2 separate regions of the Homo sapiens genome follow, and region 2 is linked to region 1. A link means that fine-mapping ties the variant in region 1 to the expression of a gene that starts in the linked region. Tissue or cell type: lymphoblastoid cells. Region 1 holds a variant in brackets; the other region holds the start of a gene. All regions are shown on one strand. Distances are between the middles of the regions.

Region 1 (2,629 bases):
AGGGAGATGGGACATTCTGAGGGACCCGGAGGCAGGGTGCCACCTCCTCAACTTCCCTGAGGGCTGCCTAGAATCTGTTTCCTCTCACTCTGAATTATTCTTCCTCTTATGGCTGACCAAAAACATGGAACCTCACAAAGTCCACTGTAACAGCTTTATATTTGTGAAGTGAAGAACATGAAGACAGTTTCAAGCAAAGTTATTGAGTGGACACTTTGTGTTTTTTTTGAGAAGTCTCACTCTTTCACCCAGGCTGGAGTGCAGTGGCACGATCTCGGCTCACTGCAACTCCACCTCCCGGGTTCACGCCATTCTCTTGCCTCAGCCTCCTGAGTAGCTGGGACCACAAGCGCCCACCACGTCAGCTTAATTTTTTTGTTTTGTTTCTTGAGACAGAGTCTTGCTCTCTTGCCCAGGTTGGAGTGCCGTGTCGCAATCTCAGCTCACTGCAACTTCTACCTCCTGGATTCAAGCACTTCTCCTTGCCTCAGCCACCTCTTTAGCTGGGATTACAGGTGCGTGCCACCACACCCAGCTAATTTTTGTATTTTTAGCAGAGACCAGGTTTCACCATGTTGGTCAGGCTGGTCTCAAACTCCTGACCTCGTGATCCACCCACCTCGGCCTCCCAAAGTGCTGGAATTACAGGCGTGAGCCACTGCACCTGGCCTGTATTCTTTTCTTTAGTAGAGACGGGGTTTTACTGTATTTGCCAGGATGGTCTCGATCTCCAGACCTCGTGATCCGCCCGCCTTAGCCTCCCAAAGTGCTGGGATTATAGGCGTGAGCCAACACGCCCTGGCCACTTCTTGTCTTTGCAACATTTTTTAGATATGTATTTGTGTTTTTTGGGGAGCTTAATTTGCTAATGGAATCTCTGTTATTTTCCTAACATGCTTGGTGGATACAAGAGTTAAGACTTCCTGTCCCGTTTAGTGTAACAAAAGAAAGTTAAGAAATGTGGATAAAAGATTGTAAGTTAGAAATGGCAAGATAATCAGCTATATGAAGAATCTTGGCCAGGTGTGGTGGCTGAGGCCTGTAATCCCACCACTTTGGGAGGCTGAGGTGGGCGGATCACAAGGTCAGGAGTTCAAGACCACCCTGGCCAATATTGTGAATTCCTGTCTCTACTAAAAATACAAAAATTAGTCGGGCATGGTGGCGGGTGCCTGTAGTCCCAGCTACTCGGGAGGCTGAGGCCAGAAAATCGGTTGAACCTGGGAGGTGGAAGGTGCACTGAGCCAATATCACACCAGTGCACTCCAACCTGGTGACAGAGAGACACATCATCT[C/CA]AAAAAAAAAAAAAAAACTCAATCCATAAATGTTATACTTTATAACTTTATAACAGCATGTTATATGGGCTTAGATATTATCCCTAAATTTTTTTTTTTTTTTTTTTTTTTGAGACAGAGTCTCACTCTGTCACCCAGGCTGAAGTGCAATGGCATGGTCTCGGCTCACTGCAACCTCCGCCTCCCAGGTTCAAGTGATTCTCTTGCCTCAGCCTCCCGAGTAGCTGGGCCTATAGGTTCCCTCCACCACGCCCAGCTAATTTTTGTATTTTTAGTAGAGATGGGCTTTCACTACGTTAGCCAGGCTGGTCTCAAACTCCTGACCTCATGATCCACCCCCCTCGGCCTCCTAAAGTGCTGGGATTACAGGCATCTGCCACCGCACTCGGCTTATCCCTAGAAATCCTATGATAGCATGATGTATAGGCACCTAAAGGCATGGCACTTGAGAAATGTGAATAAGATTGTAAGTTACAAATAGCAAGGTACAGTCAGATGTTAACAGTCTCAGCCCCTAAATGTCACCTTGTATTACAGCATGTTATATAAGCACATACAGGCACATACATGAAATAGTGATACTTCATTCTCAGTAATATCTTCATCCTTCTCACTGGAAAGATCTTTGATGATTTTTAATCAACATAGGAGTTTCAATGATATCTAGAAGTTTAAAAGGGCTCGTTCAAACAAATTATGACCACACACACTGAAGAGTATGTTTGTCTCTTGTGGTGTAAATTTTTTTTTATTACACCAAATTATGTTCACACAAAACCTTTGTAATCAGGGGGAATTAAAGAGCCTTCCTGGAAAATGGAGGTTGCAATCAGCCGAGATGGTGCCATCGCACTCTAGCCTGGGGAATAGAGTGAGATCCTGCCTCAAAAAAAACAAAAAAATTCTTTATTTTCTCCATAAACTACAGTTTATATAAGCAAAAGTTTCAGTACTAAGCAATTTTAGTCTCTGCAGTCTCTTGTCTTGAATTAATACAACTTTTGTTAATTCTCTTATGAAGTTAATCTTCCTGCTTGTATGTGAATTAAATATATGTCAAACTTTTTTTGTACAAAAGATTCATACCTCTTTCCTGTTTGAAATTATTTTACTGTGTTTCATCAATCTAATGTTTATTTTTATTACACCAGTAATTTCCTCATTGTGTTGAATCTTACAGTGGCTTATAAATCTACATGTACCTAGAAATGTTTAGCCAGTCCATGTATATTTGATGTGGCACATTTTTTCCTTTGAATCACATACTCTAAGAGAAGTAACTTCCTCTTGCTAACCTCTACTTTCCCTAAGTGTTGAATTAATCCTCTTTAGAT
Region 2 (2,703 bases), 150 kb before region 1:
CCTGGGCTTGGAATTTCTCCAGGGCACCAGACCCAGGATTGGGGTAACAGCACTTAAGAATACTAGGAAACCACAATCCCAAGAACATGGGGGTAGAGGCTACTGAGGGACCGAACACTCTCCACTTCCCTATGTGAGTTCCATACGCCCTTCTACAACTGGGAGAACCAGGGAAAGAGGAATGCATCCCTGGTGAGGCTAGATGAGCTCAAGCCTCCCTGTAGCCCTGCCTGGCCCTGAACTCAGGCTGGCTGTTTTACTTTCTGGTCTCAGTGCTGTCACCTCTTGCCAACTGTAGGGCAATGAAAAAAAGATGTAGCCTCCCACTATCTCAATGTCCTCATCGCCCCATCGCTGCTCTTCCTGTGAACAGTCTTTGGAAAAGTTTTTAAACCCTAACATAGGGCGGGCACGGTGGCTCACGCCTGTAATCCCAGCACTTTGGGAGGCCGAGGCAGGAGGATCACTTGTCAGGAGTTCCAGACCAGTCTGGCCAAAATGGTGAAATCCCGTCTCTACTAAAAATACAAAAAATTAGCCGGACGTTGTAATCCCAGCTGCAGGCTTGTAATCCCAGCTGCTGGGGAGGCTGAGGCAGGAGAATCGCTTGAACCCGGGAGTCGGAGGTTGCAGTGACCCGAGATCGCGTCATTGCACTCCAGCCTGGGCGATAAGAGCGAAACTCCGTCTCAAAGAAAAAAAAACTAACATAAATGGCGTCCCTCCTTTGTTCAGAACTCTCCGTGGCTTCTAGCATCCTCACAATGACAGTACAACCCTAGGAGTAACTCCGCCTCATATTCTTCGTTCCCTGCAGAAAACAGCTTTCCGAATTCTCCTGGCTCAGTCGCGCCTCAACCTTTGCACGCGCCGGTTCCTCCGCCTGTCACGCTCTCCCACACCTCGTCACACGCAGTGTCAAAAAAAGGGCCCCACCCACGAACGCCTCAGTGTCCCCGACCCTGGGCAGCGGGGACTCGAGCAGGCGCCCCTCACTGATGGCTTTAGAACGTGGGTGGGGGAAGGTGTGTGAGGACGGGAAGACGCCGCACTCACCTGAGTTGGCGTCCTCAGAGTGGCCGCTGCCATCAGACTCTGCGGGTAGAGCTGGGCCGGGAGCGACGGGCGACATTGGTAGGGACCCGGGGACAGCGGTCCCTATCCCAGGCCTGACGTGGGTCCCCCAGGGCGGCGTCGCCAAGGCTTAGACGCTTTCGTGCAGGAGGGACGACGACTCCCCTCACGCCTTCGTGGCCCCAACTCGGCGCTCTGCTATCTCTGATCCGGTGAACACACCTCAGAGAAGCTAAAATGGCCGCCACGAAGAGGCCCCCCCAAAAGTCCCGTCCTTTCTTTTTGTGACTCTCAAGGAAAGTCGGTTTTCTGAGCTCTTACTGGCTTAGTAGCGTGGCGTTCAACGCAGAGCATTCTAGGTAATGTAGTTTTCATAGATCCCGAGGTGGGTGCCGGGGACCCTTTGCACCAACCTCTTGGAGTAAAAGCGAAGCTCCAGGGCGCTGGGCGATGAGAAATGGCTTATCCAAGTCCTAGGGCAGTGGAGGGACTTCGCCCTTTCTTAAATGGGTCGTAATCAGACAGCATATTAGAGGTGCCATCTGCAACTGATCACCCAAGTGTTTGGGGAATATTATTTCAAACTTCATAAAGTTCAGCAGGCTCCCAGAGGCTAAAATTATTATCAGACGCTCCCTAAGGCTGCCAATCCAAATATGTACATCATTCCATAGAGCCATTCAGACACGAAATATATCCACTAGTAGGGAAGCTAATAAACATTACCATATAAGTTTATTCCTTTTTTTTTTTTTTTAAGACAAAGTTTCCCTCTGTCCCCCAGGCTGGAGTGCAGCGGCGCCATCTGGGATCACTGCAACCTCCGCCTCCCGGGTTAATCGATTCTCGTGCCTCAACCTTCCAAGTAGCTGGGACTATAGGCGCGCGCCACCACGCCAGGCTAATTTTTTGTATTTTCAGTAGAGACAGGGTTTCACTATGGTGGTCCCAAATTCCTGGCCCCAGGTGATCTGCCCGCCTCGGCCTCTCAAAGTGCTGGGATTACAGGCGTAAGCCACCGTACCCAGCCTCTATCATATTACATTTCAAATGTATGCACTCCGAAGCATTGAAGTCAGTCTGTGCACTTTTGGTCAGGGACAGGTGAAAAACTACTTCAGATAGTGGCATGATAGTGCTTCTAGAAGATAGAAGAGAAATGTTAGATCACCTTGAAACAGTAGTACAAAGGTAGAATTCTGTCTGATTCCAACAGAAAACATCTTTTGCCTGCATAGTCAATTATTGTGTCCAATTACTGTGTCCAGTCAATAACTGTGTCCAATTCACTGAGCAACGCTTTTATCCATTTCATAATTCTTACTTGATATCTGAGATATATTCCTTCTAGAAGTCTAACATCAATCTCAAAAAACAATGAAAGAAATGCTACTTTGATAAGAGACAAAGGGGAGAGGTGGGACTTCTTAATCAGAAAGCCGGTGAAATGCACTTGAAGGAAGTGAGAAATGAGCCATGTGGGTATTTTTAGAATAAATTCCAGGCAGAAGAAGCAGGTTACTAGAGTGCCTGGATGGATGGAGACTTCACAGGGCATTTCAGCATTGGAGGGCCTAGGGCTCCAACCCAGCAGGCCTTCATCTGCTTTGCTGGCTGCAGAGACACTCA

Which allele goes with the higher level. Positions count from the first base shown, and alleles are read on the strand shown. Sizes are in standard deviations (SD) of each study's normalised expression.
With allele C in place of CA in region 1, the expression in lymphoblastoid cells of the gene that starts at base 1,322 in region 2 is lower (large effect, 1.6 SD a copy in TwinsUK).

Evidence for each region. PIP is the estimated chance that this variant, and not a neighbour inherited with it, causes the effect.
Region 2: it holds the start of ZNF154, and the variant in region 1 is fine-mapped to the expression of ZNF154 in lymphoblastoid cells (TwinsUK, PIP 0.95).

What each region holds. Positions count from the first base shown.
Region 1 is chr19:57,862,746-57,865,374 of GRCh38, forward strand. It overlaps ZNF587 (zinc finger protein 587), which reads left to right. Exons shown (of 3, transcript NM_032828.4): 3 at 1-2,372. Among named protein-coding and RNA genes, the nearest start is that of ZNF587, 14 kb to the left of the region's middle. The variant C/CA (reference allele first, on the strand shown) is at 1,296.
Region 2 is chr19:57,707,883-57,710,585 of GRCh38, forward strand. It overlaps ZNF154 (zinc finger protein 154), which reads right to left and starts at 1,322. Exons shown (of 3, transcript NM_001085384.3): 1 at 1,057-1,322. The coding sequence starts at 1,089. RefSeq lists enhancers at 910-1,549, 1,293-1,422, 1,443-1,502.